Homo sapiens: one gene and its partners. The protein of the gene in region 4 purifies or fractionates together with the protein of the main gene of each other region. This does not show direct contact. Each region holds a gene or a part of one and is shown on either strand. Other genes may lie near its edges.

The links.
Region 1: the proteins of PTPRM (region 4) and ATP2A1 purify together in Homo sapiens (affinity purification with mass spectrometry, with the first as the bait; one large-scale study listed by BioGRID). This does not show direct contact.
Region 2: the proteins of PTPRM (region 4) and LMAN1 purify together in Homo sapiens (affinity purification with mass spectrometry, with the first as the bait; one large-scale study listed by BioGRID). This does not show direct contact.
Region 3: the proteins of PTPRM (region 4) and MON2 purify together in Homo sapiens (affinity purification with mass spectrometry, with the first as the bait; one large-scale study listed by BioGRID). This does not show direct contact.

What each region holds. Positions count from the first base shown.
Region 1 is NC_000016.10:28,891,988-28,895,487, reverse strand, and holds part of ATP2A1 (sarcoplasmic/endoplasmic reticulum calcium ATPase 1), read right to left. Parts: intron 1,334-3,500; coding exon 1,245-1,333; intron 984-1,244; coding exon 881-983; intron 667-880; coding exon 535-666; intron 1-534. UniProt on the Homo sapiens protein: Key regulator of striated muscle performance by acting as the major Ca(2+) ATPase responsible for the reuptake of cytosolic Ca(2+) into the sarcoplasmic reticulum.
Region 2 is NC_000018.10:59,328,266-59,331,765, reverse strand, and holds part of LMAN1 (protein ERGIC-53 precursor), read left to right. Parts: intron 1-226; coding exon 227-348; intron 349-636; coding exon 637-673; 3' UTR 674-3,500. UniProt on the Homo sapiens protein: Mannose-specific lectin. May recognize sugar residues of glycoproteins, glycolipids, or glycosylphosphatidyl inositol anchors and may be involved in the sorting or recycling of proteins, lipids, or both.
Region 3 is NC_000012.12:62,465,626-62,469,625, reverse strand, and holds the start of MON2 (protein MON2 homolog), read right to left. Parts: upstream 2,801-4,000; 5' UTR 2,419-2,800; coding exon 2,308-2,418; intron 1-2,307. UniProt on the Homo sapiens protein: Plays a role in regulating membrane trafficking of cargo proteins. Together with ATP9A and DOP1B, regulates SNX3 retromer-mediated endosomal sorting of WLS away from lysosomal degradation.
Region 4 is NC_000018.10:7,951,210-7,956,276, reverse strand, and holds part of PTPRM (receptor-type tyrosine-protein phosphatase mu isoform 1 precursor), read right to left. Parts: intron 1,157-5,067; coding exon 863-1,156; intron 1-862. UniProt on the Homo sapiens protein: Receptor protein-tyrosine phosphatase that mediates homotypic cell-cell interactions and plays a role in adipogenic differentiation via modulation of p120 catenin/CTNND1 phosphorylation.

The DNA.
Region 1 (3,500 bases), on a different chromosome or scaffold from region 4:
GAGAGAAAGAGAGAAATGTGGGGAATATAATTCCCCAGAGAGAAGTGCTTAATGGAGACGTTCAGCAAGTATCAATAGCAATAACTGGGAGTGACAGTCCTAGAAGTGGCCGGGTTCATCTGGGCAAGGAAAGGCTTTCCCTATAGGTGCAGTAGCCACATTTCCCAAATCCTAAGTCAGGACTCATCATCTGCTGAAAACAAGTGTGCTTCTAGAAACAAAGGAATAACAGATGAAGTTGGGGCTGCTCCTGGATGGGTCCCTTGTGGTTTCCGTGTCCAGCTTTGTCCACTTCAAATCAGGACACAGCGGGCAGAAGTGATCATAGATTCATCAAGGGCATGGCCGCCAGGCAGCCCCAGGGACAATGGGTCCCACCCACATCAGCCTGTGGAGAAGCTGCAGGGGCTGTCTGCTGCCTGGGTGGGGTCCCAGCACAGGCACTAGGCTCTGCCCAACCAGGGCCTCTGCCTTCCTCTAGTCTATGCAGCATAGAGTGGAGACGGCCCTGTGGCAGGGGCTCCGCAGGCTCACCGAGTTGCAGGCGTTGGCTCTCTCCACCTTCGAGAGGCTTCTCACATCCGTGTTGAACACATTCATCTTCTCCACCAGGGTGGTGAGTGCTGTCTCGGTGGCCTCGCCGACCTTCTCATAGACACCTTTGGCCTGAGATGGGCAGAGGAGGAAGAGGAAGTCGGTGCCCCAGGCTCCTACCTGTCATACCCTCCTTCCACCTAGCGTAAGAAGGAAGCAAACCACTGCCTCCCTTGCACCCTGGCAGAGGGCTGGGTGTACTGGGTCCCCTTCCTCCAACCCTTTCCTCCTGGCCTTCGGAGGAGGCCCAGACTCTGAGCCAACTGGAAGGGGAAGGAGAGGTTACCTCGTTGAAGTCCAAGGAGGAGTCATTGCAGAGGGCACAGATGGTGGCCAGCTCCACCAGCCCGTCATACTGCCCTGGCCGGACTGGCTTATCATTCTTCAAGCTGGCAGCAGGGTCAGGGGAGGAAGGGACAGAGACAGTGGAGAAGAACAGGGAATGAGATGCAGAGAGGGCACAGGAAGAGCAGGCAGCAGAGGGTAAGGAAGGACAGTGGGGAGAGCCAACTCGGATATCAGGAGAGAGAACAAGGTCGGGGAGGAAGAGGAGAGTGAAAGGAGAGCAAAACCACATGGAGGGCCCCAGGGAGAAAGGGGGTGTGGGAAGGGGCGTGAGGAGCTGGGGAGAAGATGCCTGGGTGACTTACACCTCTCCCTCTGGAGCGTAAGTGGAGCCGGTGATGGAGAACTCATTCAGGAGGCAGATGTCCCCATCCACCTTGTCAATGATAAACATCTGCAGGGGAGAAGGGCAGGCACACAGATGTCCACCTCTTCCCATCCCAAGGTGGGCACCTGCATCAAGGGAGGCCTGCACTGCCAACACCTACCTTCCCACCATTTCCCTCCTACTCACCCCTCCTCATCCCCCCCGTATACCCTACCCACTTCCCACCAAGCTGTTGCAATCATTCTCTATCAACAGCCTTAAAACAATAGTTACTGAGGCTGGGCGAGGTGGCTCACACCTGTAATCCCAGCACTTTAGGAGGCTGAGGTGGGCGGATCACCTGTCAGGAGTGCAAGACCATCCTGGCCAACATGATGAAACCGTCTCTACTAAAAATACAAAAATTAGCCAGGTGTGGTGGTGCGCGCCTGTAATCCCAGCTACTCTGGAGGCTGAGGCAGGAGAATCGCTTGAACCTGGGAGGCAGAGGTTTCAGTGAGCCAGGATCGTGCCATTACACTCCAGCCTGGGCGACAAGAGCCAAACTCAAAAAAAAAAAAAAAAACAAAAAAAAACCCACAAACGAGTGACCGCAGGCTGTGCTGTGCTGGAGCTTCTGTAGACCAGTTAATAAAATAAGATGGAACACAATAAGGTATGGTGGGGACTGTGGCAAACAGCCCAACTATTGGCACCTGGACCATCTACAGCTCCAGCTGCATGTGGCCAGATCTTCCAGTTTTGCAGGAAGAGCTAGAAATTCAGGTTATCTTCCTATGAAATCTCTTGACTTTTTCTTTTTCTTTTTGTTTTTTAAGATAGGTTCTTGCTCTGTTGCCCAGGCTGGAGTACAGTGGTGTGATCATAGCTCATTGCAGCCTCAACCTCCCGGGCTCAAGTGATCCTCCCACCTCAGCCTACCCAAGTAGTTGGGGCCACAGGCACATGCCACCATGCCTGTCTCTCTTGCTCTCTCTCTCTCTCTTTTTTTTTTTTTTTGGTAGAAATTGGGTCTCACTATGTTGCCCAGGCTGGTTTTGAACTCCTGGGCTCAAGTGATCTTCCTGCCTTGGCCTCCCAAAGTGCTGGGAGTACAGGCACCCACCATGATGCTGGGAGTACAGGCAACTACCATGCCCAGCCTCTTGACTTTCAAATATATGGGCAATTCTTTTTTTTTTTTTTGGAGATGCAGTTTCACTCTTGTTGCCCAGGCTGGTGCAATCTCGGCTAACTGCAACCTCCGCCTCCTGGGTTCAAGTGATTCTCCTGCCTCAGCCTCCAGAGTAGCTGGGAGTACAGGCATACGCCACCACGCCCAGCTAATTTTGTATTTTTAGTAGAGACGGAATTTCGCCATGTTGGCCAGGCTGGTCCCGAACTCCTGACCTCAGGTGATCCACTCACCTTGGCCTCCCAAAGTGCTGGGATTACAGGCGTGAGAATTAATTCATTTTTATGAAACATGACAGGAGCCAAGTCACACGAGCCTGTGGTCTGGCTTTGTGGCCTGTGCGTTAGAGGGATGTGGAGAACGCAGTGCCCAGGAGGAGTGGCCTACCCTGAATCCTGGGCAAACGCAACAGAGACTGGGCTTTTCATTCCCGAGAAGAGAGATGGTTAAGATGGGTTCCAAGACAAAAAAGTTCTGTGGTCAGAAAAAAAACTTGGGAACCTCTGGGGCAAAGCAGAATCCGTCTTCTTTACACAGTCAGCCTCCTCTAAGGCTTTCAAATAGCAGCAGATGTTGTGGGTCTCGCCCAGGAGCCAAGGTTACAGCCTTTCTCACCCTGATCTGACCACACAGCCCTTGCTTCTCAGAACAGCAATTTCTAGTTCATGGGTGTAGTCTTCCACAAAACTCTGTGAAGGGCAGGGGTTCTTGGCCTGAGGTCAGTGGAAGACCCTGCAAGGAGCCCAAGAACTGAGATAGCCAAGAAAAAAACGACAGCTTTTCTTGTTCTCAAGCTGACGTTTGACATTTCCTTCCAGTTATGCATGTTGTCAACAGACCACATTAGTATTAGCAAAACCTGTGACTGTCACCAATTTAATCACAGATACTTTCCTCCTATCACATTACCACTGTTGCAGATCTCTCAAAATAGCATAATTTATGCTCACCACTGCTTCAACATTATGATAGTGCTTAGACCCACTGCGAGAACTCCCTAATTAATGCCTTAATAAAGAAGCATGTGTGTTGCCAAATTACAAAGTTGTTTTTAAAAAT
Region 2 (3,500 bases), about 51 Mb from region 4:
GCAGTGAGTTAGTGACTGGGTAGTAAAAAGGTGGAGGCCTTCCAGTGTCAACTACTCCTTCAAAAACAGTTGTCAGTAAAAGTTAAGGGGATAGAAGGTTTTCTGGGGGATGAAAAAATGAAAATACTTGTTTATATAGCAAACAGTTTTATAAAGATTTCACATTTATTTCTTTTTCCAAACTGCTATTTTGACTAACTGTAATAGAAAGTCATTTGCCTTACAGCCATCAAATGAAAAGCCGAAATGCCCAGAACTACCACCATTTCCATCATGTTTGTCTACGGTCCACTTCATTATATTTGTTGTGGTGCAAACTGTATTATTCATTGGTTATATCATGTATAGGTAAGTCTCTTGATAAAATGTGACCCAATATTTTTCTGCATCTGTTTAATTAGAAATATTCAACTAAGTTATCTATGTTCATAATACAATTTTCACCACCTATAAAATTAAGTTTATTGTGATTTCTGTTCATTTCAGTTCACATAAAGTGCACGTGTAGAATATATGTTTATCTTAATGCGTTGTATACTTCAAAAGGCATTGATATTTTAATTTTAAATAGTCCTGTTTCTTTCCAAAGTTAAGCGTATAGAACTTCTTTAAGTGTTTGTTTCTTTTTTTCATTAGGTCTCAGCAAGAAGCAGCTGCCAAAAAATTCTTTTGACTACCATTTTCCTGTGTACTTCATCTATTTGTGTACAAAATGATGTCGTTTTGAGGGAATTTAAGTATTTAAATTGCTTCATAGTCTAAATTATTAATTTTCTTAATAAAATAACTGTTTAAACATTGATTTGCAGTTAAGAATAAACCTTAAAGCAAAGACAACCACATTTTAATTTGTTCACAGTATGTAAATCTGTCTAAATTTCAGTGAATTTCTGGTCAGTATGATGCAGCCTCTGAGCAGAATATTGACCAGTAAGAGGGTAAATAAAGTGGGGGCAACCCCTGGATATGAATGTTACCCCCTAAGTCTCCAATATTGCAGGTTTCCCTGTATAACGTAAACACACTTGCCCTCATGCCTCCCAGAATATGAGGTCTAATTAAGAAGTCCCATCAGGTTTATTTTGTAACCAAAGTCTTTTTTAGAGGTCAGACTTCCTAATCAAAGGCCTGGGCCTGCAGTCCTTTCATCTTAATGCAACTTCCTTTGAAATCAAAGAATATTTTGTCTGAGAGCTTTAAGGATCTGGTAATAGACTTCAAAATGTTAAGTGAAATTTTTTTTTCCTCTATTTATCAATGATATATTTCACTTTTAAAGGAAATTTTAGAGGAAAATTAATAGCTGCTTTTTGCCTAAAAAACCTTGTGGGTGGAAACATTCCTCTGAGAATGGCTTTTATAGGTATTTTGCCTGGTAATGTATTCATTCATGATTGCCCATATTCTTGAATGTCTTCATTCCAATGGGGTCAGGTCAATATTATGAAAATAATTTTTATATTTATATTTGTAACTTAAGGAATTTATTTCTCCCTTTACTACAGCATGTAAATTCAGCTCAAATTGCATGATCTGAGGATTTAAATTCACAAAACCTGCCACTACATTCTGGTTTACATTAGTTACTTCATGCTGGCTGGGGTTAGTGACCATTTGCATACTCTTTTAAATCAAGGAGGCTGTAGTAGAAGCAGTTTTAAGATTCTTGAAGGCAAAATTTGAAAAACAGTGAATACTTCTAATTGTTTCCTTTTAGTGCCAGAACTAAGGACATTGTGAAGCACTTGTTAGTAAACTTAACCTTGAAATGTCAGACTGGAAGGAGTTTTTATAGTCTTTGTGCATACTTCTAGGTATTACAGAAACAGTCTGTAAATGACATTTTAAGATGCAAATTTAATTCTGTTCACAGCTGATTTATACTGATTTTTGCTGCCTTCAAAATACTCTTTTACTTCTTTTAGCTAAAATGGTTGTCTTTCATTTGCCATAGAATTCCAAACAATACTATCTTATAAAATAGTACTGTTGAATTATTCCAAGCCTCCCTAGGTTTGCTCTCAAATGTCATTTACAGATTGGGCTAACGACCTAAAATCTATATATAAAGACTTTCTGAAGAACTCTGTATTATAGCAATACCAAACGAGTGCTGTGTGTGCAAACAGTCTGGCGTTGCTTTTTATGTTGATATTTATCCTAGAACACTGAAAGAGAATATGCCAGTGATAACTCACTTTACTTCAGTCATTTCAACACAGAAAATGCTTCTCTAGCATTTTTCTTTTGTAGTGTTAACATTTTGAAATTCATGTTTCAGAGGCTTCATCATCACAGAATTTACTCTTGCTCCATGAAAAAAAATTAAATACCTTCAGAGGAATATTTAAGTTGTAAACTATGAAACTTGAGAAATCCTCTTGAGATAAAAGGCTGCCAAATCCAGTATTATAAAGTCCATGGTCATATGTGCCTGTGCATTAAAGGAATACCAGATCTATGCAGTATACATTTTTCAGGCTGAAATTCAAGGGGAATCATTCTGATTATTCTTACTACAAATGGAGATGGCTATTATGAAACAGCATGAGCATGAGCCTTTTATCTTTTATACTTAGTGATATACTTTGCTTGAAAATCACTCAGCAAAGTAGTTCACATGATGTGTATCATATTTGAAGTGTGGTTTTTCTCAAAATCATTGACTTTAAGGAGCTCATTTCTGAACAAAAAGGTTTGCTCTGTGGAAAAATCAATCACTGCCAGGATTCTTTCATTTCTGTACTATTTTGTATAATTGAATTTGTTCACTTCTCTCACACCAGCAAGTGTTTTACAGGTGCCTTGGATTAAAACAAAATTGATTTTAAAATTTTTATGTAAGTCATTGTGTCTATGATGCCACTTTTAAAAGGAAAATGCAATTGCGTAATGGCTTATATCCTTATTTAATGTACCTATTTGTGTTCTAATAATTGTTTGAATGTTTTATTCAGCTTAAAACTTTACCATGAAGTCATAAACAGTAAACAATGTTTTGTTATGTATTAAGGGGATATCAGTGTTTCTCAAAGTATGATCCATGGACCATCTGGGTCATGGCGCCTGGTTTCAGACAACCTGAATCAAATCTTAGGGGTGGGGCTTTGGGATGTCATTGTTCAATAGGCACCTCAGGAGATTCTGAGCACACCAATGTTTGAGAACCACTAAAATGAGGAGTGGGAAAAAAAAAATAGGTGTTTTGTTAATTTAGAGCTGAGCTGAGAAGATAATATATTTTTATTGTCAATGACATTAACAGATATGCACTGATTCTTTTATACCTACAATTTACTTAATGTTCCTTTTATTAAAACGCGTGGTTCATGAGCAACTACAGACTGAATCCAGATTATTACCTGTTGCTTTCAGTATTTTCGTGATGGCTTTTAATCTTATGAAATCATCTTGAGATCATTCATGGTCAAGCCATGAAAACTCCCATCTTCAAGCCTGCCTGCTAAAGCTTCTTTGCCTTCCTGATTGTGATTATGGTA
Region 3 (4,000 bases), on a different chromosome or scaffold from region 4:
CTTCATCATAATTAGGCTAATGACTCTCTTTGTTTTAAACCTATGACACAGTCAAGATCATTTTTCAATTCCTAAAGTAGTGCCCAGTGTCATTGGGTAAGAAATCAAAAAGCTTTCATTCAACAAATTCTTATAAACACGTACCATATACAAAATTATGCATCAGAGATAATCACAAGAATTACTTTTGCTATTATCTCAAAGACTAGGTGCAATTACAAAATATCTCTCTAGCCAGTGTTCAAGTAAAAACCAATAAGCTTTTTTGTTAGTTTGTTTTGAGACAGGGTCTCCTTCTGTCTCCCAGGCTGGAGTACAGTGGCACAATCACCACTCACTGCAGCCTTGACCGCCTGGGCTCAAGGGATCCTCCAGCAGCTTCTGGCTGGGCATGGTGGTTCACACCTGTAATCCCAGCACTTTGGGAGCCAGAGGTGGGCAGATCGCTTGAACCCAGTTCAGGAGACCAGCCTGCCAAAACCCCGTCTCTACAAAAAAAAAAAAAAAAAAGGCGAAAAATTAGCCTGTCGTGGTGGTATGCACTTGTAGTCGCTGCAACTCAGGGGGCTGAGGTGGGAGAATCACCTGAGCCAGGGAGTTCGAGGTTGCAGATCGCACCACTGCACTCCAGCCTGGGCCACAGAGACCCCATTTCCAAAATCAAAAAACAAAACAAAAAAATGTAATAAATGGCAATTAAATTCCCAAGCTAGACCACAACAGCCTATAGAGGAACCACAGTTTTTGTATGAATTATTAGAACTGCGAAGTCAGTTCTACAAATTATTGTTGAAATTACAAAATAGTGTTTGATATTTTCTAAATGAGAGCATTTCTCTTATAATTAAAACAACTTAATTCTTTAAAATTCTCTAAAACAGCCTAATTCTTTAGATTTACTTGTTATAACTTTCAACAGAGGATATAAAAAAAATGAAAATCAATATCAAAACAGACTATTGACTATGTGAAATAAAACATATCGTAACAGCCATCTTTCCAAAAGTGGCACATCTGGTTTCCATCACTGGGTAATACTTTATTAAAGAAATACAAGATGGAGTTTGTTGAAAACTGATAAAACCAATGCACTTACAGAAAAGTCAATATTCCTTACAAGCCTAAAATCCAAAATTTATTGGTCAAGTTCTAATTACATAATCTTCATAATAATAAAGATATATTTAAATAAGTATGTAAATATGAAATCCCTCGGTGAATTTTTAGGGCAAAGAGTAAATGAAATTGCAGGTAAAACAAACTACATTAAATAGGAATAAAAATAAAAACAGCCGGGCGCTGTGGCTCACGCCTGTAATCCCAGCACTTTGGGAGGCCGAGGCAGGGGGATCATCTGAAGTCGGGAGTTCGAGACCCGCCTGACCAACATGGAGAAACCCTGTTTCTACTAAAAATACAAAATTAGCCGGGCCTGTTTTTGGTGGGTTTTTTTGTTTGTTTTTTTTTTTTAGAGAATTAAAATGGCATTTTAAGAGAAAAAGCAAATAGTAACCAAATGTTAAATATTTCACCTCAAGAACTATTTGGAGAATTAAATTTCCATGTATTATTTACTGGGATCTCTTTAATAATACCCTTCTGCTCTGACATCTTTCCCATACATAATATAAAACCATCCTTTAACCCTATTTTACAGCTGGAAAAAAAAACCCGAAGCTCAAAGAGGTTAAGATTTATTGCTGGAACTAAATTCAGGTGTATTCGCTCTGACTGCAAGCCCAACTTCCCACTACAGTACTGCTCATAACAAGGTTTAACATGATTATGTGGATCTTCAATATTCTTCATAAATTAGGTGGCTCTGGATAGTTTATTAACACGTCAAAGGATTGATACAGAGTTAAGCTGAATGATATATACCAGAAGGAAAATTGTTTCCAATTCAGTGATATGCCATAAACGTGAGGAGTACAGGTTTCAACAAGATGGGTGGATACTCGTTTCGGGGAGCAACAAACAAGTTTTTCAATTTTGGTTTGGCCAGTTTCAAGTAAGAAAAAGGCCAGAATAGGCTAGTGCACAGTACACCTAGCTGGATTAACTGAATAGGCTCACTTCATGAACTTCACTCCTAAACTGGGAGGACAGGAGAGGGGAGAAAATCAAAGTGCCTCAGCCCTCTCCAGTGGAAACTATAAAAAGCCCTTGTGGAACAACCCACCGACTCACAAATCTGGAAAGGTGAGGCCTGAATGAAAATTAGGACTGGAAACTGGGGTGAAGCACTGAGTCTAACAGGACCAGGCATGCTCACAGTGCCTTCTCCTGACGTCACCTGAAGCTTACCTCTTTGACAGGTGGGAATTTCTTCTTGCACTCCAGTGACAAGGCGCGCAAGTCGCTCTGCATATTCTCCAGCAGCTTCTTCACCGCCTCGGGGCTGCTGGTGCCGGACATGATCCTCCAAGGTCCCAGCCAATTTCCGAGAGGTACAAACAAGCTCTGGCACGGTCAGCTCCTTAGGGCCACAGGCAGCTCCCTCCCGGTGTCTCTGGTCCTTCAGCAGCCCGCTTCTTGGGCCCTGGGCTGCGAACCCGGAGCCTGCTCGAGCGTCCCCCAGCAGCTTCCCCGCAACACCTCTGGCTTTTCTCGGAGGCGCCCCCCGCAGTCGCACCGTCCCGCTAGGCTCCGCCGACTCTGGCCGAGAAACCCACAAGGCGGGCAGGTCCCTCCGCTGCCGCGGGGCCCAGCCACACCGGGTGTCACCAGCCAACCTGGCAAGAAGCTTCAGCGCCAGCTCCCCAGGCCCCTAAGACTCGCCGACGCCATTAGCCGAGTCGCCCACAATTCCGAGCGCTGCCGGGACACGTCAGCCGCACTTCCGGGTACCGTGGCCTCCGCCACCGCCGCGGCCAACCCCGGCGGCAGGCCGTCGGCGGGGCGGGGCTGGGGCTTGGCCATGCTCGGGGCAGGCGGGATTCCGGGTGGGCAGCGATTCCCACAGCCCCACCCCCGGAATCAAGTAGGCTAGACAGGGTTTAAGGCGTCAAGATTCGCTTCGTTTTCATTAACAAGTGCCTGAACAGAGCCCCCGAGTACTCCTTGGCATATCTCTTTGCGTATGTTTGTGTTAAATTGTATTTCGGTGTAAATAATTTGTTTCCCTGTAGATTAATCTTAACGTGTCTCCTCCCGCTTCATTTCGAATCTCTGGACTAGTGGCCCCAAATCAGTGGCTACCTCCTGTTAATATACATTTTTTTTCTTTAAACGCAACTGGTGCACTTACTGTGGGGTAGCCTCTTATTTTCCTAATCTCTAAAATGAGACTACCCTCTGCTCCACGCATTCCGCTGGCCTCCCATCTCACTCAAAGTAAAAGCCAAAATTCCTCCAATCACCTACCAGGCGCTACGAGATCTGTCCCGGCCCCTTTACTGGCAGATGCTCCCAGCTAAAAGGAGAGTTTCGCGAGTTGGGCTGCCGGTTCTTCCTCTTTTTAAATCTTATTTTGTTTCCTGTGTATCTCCAGCACCTAGAACAGTGTCTGGCATATAGCAGGTAATCAGTACATACTTGTTGAATGAATACCCTTCTATTATAAAATCAGAGTTTCGAGGCTCAAATAAGGCACAGATACATAAAAGCCTTCATCAGGTCTGAAGTGCCAAATAAATATGAGGCAAAAGCCAAACAGAAAAATCTTCATCTGTATTTCCCCAAGATCCAGGTTGGTCTACTTTTTCCCCAAGACATTTTGCAGCTGCTGGTCAGAAAGCAGAAAATGAGGGAGGAAAAACCAGAAACAGTAGAGATGAAGAAACCAACACCTTCAGACAGCTGAGCTTATGACATGATGGAAGACAGTGAGCCATGAGATTGTCAGTGGATAGCGCTGTTTGGCTGTAACAGAGCTACTTTGTAAGCTAAATAATTTTATTTTATTTTTCCTTCTGATAAGAAGCAAAGCAAGGATGGATAAAGGGGACAGATGAGGTAATAGTAGAGAGCTCCTAGGGCAGTAATTTTGATCATTTGT
Region 4 (5,067 bases):
ACATTGATAAATGTATTCTTATCTAATGCTATCTGAATAATTAACTAACACCATAACAATTTATGGAATCTCCTCATCTCAGCACACAATTCAACACAGAAATTCCTCATTTACAAGACAAAAGAGCACTTAAATATCCCAATATACTGTTTCTCTCTGCTTCCTACCACAGAGTAGCCATACGGAAACAACACTACAATCTCTAATTGGGGAGCTTCATTCAGGTTTTGATTTTTGGAAGATTTTACACTTCTCTCTCCATTAACCCTACTTTTACTTAAGTTGCGGAATGGGTTTAGCACAATTAGAAATTTATAATCTAAGAAACTAAAGACTGCACCCAGCACACAAATCACTCTTGCTTATGATACAAACAGGCCCAAGTCATTCGCCAGCAGACCCTCCATTAAACACTCATCAATGAAAACACATCTTTAAGGCTATCTCTAAGATGGAATCTGTTATTCCAGAGCCCCTCCAGGCTGCTGGCACATTAACTATGAACATAAAACAAAGGGGCCCAAGTAAGAGAGTCTGACCTATTAGAGGACATCATTAGAGTAGACAGTTTCTGTAAACTTCACAGACAATTCCTATATGAACAATGTGGTACTCAGAGTAAGAAGTAAATTAACAATAGGAAAAAGGGTGGGGGCAGGCTGAGAAATACCAAGCCTGGAGGTTACTGGTCCCCAAGTTCACAAGCTGTTAGCTGACTATTCACAGGCTAAGGGCATTTTCTGTTCATATGCAGGTTTTGATAGAGCTAGGGGAAGCGTGCTAGGCATCTGATCAACCCCAGTGCTGCCAGTCAACACCAGGAAAGACAATGACAATTAATTGCAGGGTTCCTTATACTCACCAGCACACTTTGTTCTTGTCCTGAGAGCTGGACCAGGAGAGCCAGTGCCACCCTCCCCTGGCCTGGTCAGGAGCACACTAATCTCATATTCTGTATCTGGGTCAAGGTGTCCAATTTTATAGCTCGTGGAATCGACTGGCTGCCGGTCATTCCAGCTCCCACTGGCCGTGCAGTACTCCACCTCTCGGGCCACAATGGGCCCATCCCCATTGATGGAGTTGGCGTTGAGCTGTATCCACAGGTAGGTGGCTCCTACAGAGGCGAGCTGAGGTGGGGCAATAGGAACGGGTGGTTCTGAAAGACAAACCAGAAAGCTGTCTTTCAGATGCTTTGTCTTCAGTCTTAAAAGAGCTAAACATGCATCAATTATTAAAATGTAGAAGATAATAAAATTTCAGGAATAAATTGATGAGAAAAATTTTGTTTGGGTTAACAAGAAAAAGTATGTTGAAAAAGATTTTCATAGCATTCAAAGTTGTGAAATAAACCATCTTTAAACACATAAGCTTATTCAAGTAGGCATAACCCTAATTTGTTTTAGGACACCAACCACCGTGCATAGCATATGCAAATTAGCATATCTGATACTTTTTGTAATGGTGAATACAGAAAATATTCTCAAGACAAAAATGCATTAAAGTGATGCCTGTTTTAGGATACTAATTACAATATCTTGAATGAGTAAGCCCACTCATTACAGTGAGTCAGTTACACAGATATCAAAGGATTTTTTTTTTCCACTAAAGTTAACTGGTAAAAGTTCTCTCAAGTAGTAGTATTTAAGCTCTAGGAAGCATTCATTGTTAATCTCCTTATTGAGAATGTCTTCAAAATCATCAAAGGTATTAGTTCTTATATCATTAAATTGTTTCCTTATATTTATATTCCAAAGGTATCACCACTTTAAAAACATGCCTGAAATTACAGTTTATCTCATCAAAAATACATTTCCAGGATGACTCATTTTCCAAAATAACTATCACAATGGATTCATTTTGCTACAGGAGAATCGAGCATTCTGGATAATGAAGTCCACCACTGCTGCCATTCAGGGAACTTCCAGTAGTAAGTCTTACTAAAGCAGTGAATAGAAAGGAAAGCTCTGAAGCAAAAAACATACCATGCACAGCTTGATAAAACTAAGAAATCACTAGCAAACACACTTTACAACCCAAGAAAGTCCCTCTCTTTGTTTAAAATCTGAGACCGACTCTTTCCTATATCATTGTCAATCTTATCATAAATAGTACTCCCAGTATATTAGTTAGATGCCCGTTGAAAGGCTCTCTAGGCACCAAATGAAGGTATTCCACATGCCGATGCCACTGTGGGTGATACCACACATGATAAATGAGATCATTGTACAAAACAACGTATTTCTACCGGCATAAATCTCCCTCTCAGAAAAACATAAATCTAGTGATTTTTTTCAAGACTGTATCTATGGGTGGTTTGTGCCTTTTTGGCATGTTCTGTTTTTAACTCCTCATTTTGCTCATACAAATGCACGGAAAAATAAAATCCGCTATATCCTATTACTGGAATGCTGGCTTGCTTGCTGAAATTTCTGCTACCCTCTTGCATCCTCTTGCATGGCAGACATAGCTAATCGATCACAGCCATGTTCCCTGCTGCAGAGGACCTCAGAGAAGCTAGCACCACATGAGGTTTGCACCTGAGCTGATACCGGGTAAACTCCTAGACCAGCTAAAAACCAGCAACATTGGTTCCCTTTGTTGAGTTGGTTGTCTTAGTTCTTTTTTATATTCAAGGTGGGATAAGTCATACTGACTTTTTACAATTGCTGGGGAAATCTCACTCGACTAAGTCAAAATAAGACACAAAACTGTGAATGAATTTTCCTTCAGAGACTACAAACATAATGTAAATTTACTAAAATATTGTTCCTGTTGTTTATAAACTGAAACTTTGTGCTGGTTTTTCATTTCTTTAAACAGCTCTGCCTTAACTCACAATGATTTAACATCAATTCATATCATTAGGCGATTCCTTGAACCGAGACATGAAATGGGCCTTTTATGGTACATCCTAAGGCATTTATGTAGCCAGACTGAAAGAGCAGTTAATTACTTTCGAGTTGCAAATGCTAGCAAGGGTTGTTGAACTGCCATTCAAAATGAAACTCAGGGGCAAAGTCACAAAGGGTCATGAGTACACTCACTCATTTAAGACATTGTAACTAGTATCCTAAAATAGATGGGACTTTAATGCATTTGTTTCCTGAGAATGTTTTCTGTTTTAATTCTCCATTAAGAAAAGTACCAGATATGCTAAATCAAATGAAGTATTCAACTAGAACCTGGAAATAATTGGGACAGACATTCAAAAGGACTTTTGGTTTACAGAAGAATCAGCACAAGAATACGGCAACATTTAAATTTTCGTTTTTAGACAGAATCTTGCTCTGTCACCGAGGCTGCAGTGCAGTGGCACCATCGTGGCTCACTGCAGCCTCCGCCTCCCAGGTTCAAGTGATTCTCCAGCCCCAGCCTCCTGAGTAGCTGGGATTACAGGTGTGTGCCACCACAGCTGGTTAGTTTTTGTATTTCTACTAGAAATGGAGTTTCACCATGTTGGCCGGGCTGGTCTCGAACTCCTGACCTCAAGTGATCTGCCAGCCTCGGCCTCCCAAAGTGCTGGGATTATAGGCATGAGCCACCACGCCCGGCCAACATTTACATTTTCTTTTCTTTTTTTTTTTTTTTGAGATGGAGTCTTGCTCTGTCGCCCAGTGCAGTGTCGCCATCTTGGCTCACTGCAAGCTCTGTCTCCCAGGTTCACACCATTCTCCTGCCTCAGCCTTCCGAGTAGCTGGGACTACAGGCGCCCGCCACCATGCCCGGCTAATTTTGTATTTTTAGTAGAGACAGGGTTTCACCGTGTTAGCCAGGATGGTCTCAATCTCCTGACCTTGTGATCCACCCGCCTCAGCCTCCCAAAGTGCTGGGATTACAGGCATGAGCCACTGTGCCCGGCCACATTTGCATTTTCAACAAATTTTCCCAAAGGGAAAGGATGAAAGAGGTAAAGAAGGAAGGAAGGAGAAGGCAAGAATCTTAATCTGTACAAAGTGATAAAATGCAATTTAAAATATTTCTTAATTCAAGTGAAAGGACACCATAAAACTAATTCTAAATCAAGCCAGTAATGGCAGTATTTATACACACACAGACATATATCTAATGGATACGCACATGTAAATGCCTAATACATCAATAAATATGTCAGTATCATATTTAACTGTATGAAATATGTTTACATATGAAATATAGAAACGTAACTAAATAGGGTATTGATATATATATGCATATATACATGCATTGTGGAGATTATATGAAATATTTTTATGTCCTTGGTTATCAAAAGTGGCTAGACATGAATAAAGATGAGAGTGATGGTTAGTCAATTAAAGGACTTGGTCTTTATTTGGGAGGCTGGCCACAAATCAGTGTGTGACCTTAAAAGGTTAAAAACTCTATGGACTTTAGTTTCTCCCATTTGTAAAATTTAGCACTCCAAATATGATATGGTATATAAAAAAGTGTTAAATTATAGACAAGTGGCCTAAAAATGTTAGTGTATATTTTAAAGTAATTGCCTCAAGGTAATAACCTTATAAAACTAGTAGTATCTAGCATGTTATCTCATTAAAAAATATATCTATATACAAAATATGGCCATAAAATTATAATTGGAGAAAAAGTTAAATTTCATATTTGAGTCCTAACTGCATGCAAATTGTCATGAGCTGTGGCAGTGTGCGGAAATGGAAATAAGTCCCTGGTAATTTTTATCACAGTGAGCCAAGATACTACTACACTGCCATAAGACAGGAAAATGTGGTGCACAAATATGAATACGAATCTATTCATTCTTTCTATTTATGTTTGTTCAGGTAGACTAGAAATTTATAATTTACTTATAACTTCCAACAAATTAACTTTTCCACAAGGGAATTTTTAGAGATACTACTAGATTTGCATCCCACTAATCAATAACATGGGTAGTGGCAGGTCACAGTGAAGCAGTATAGCAACTGAAAGAAAAGGAAAAATAATCAAAAACAAATGAACCAAGATGAAAATTAAATAATGGTAGTAATAATGATGATGATAATGATGAACTCTAAAATGACAAAACAGTTTGTAGGCAAACTAGTGTCCTTTCTGTACATCATGATGTCT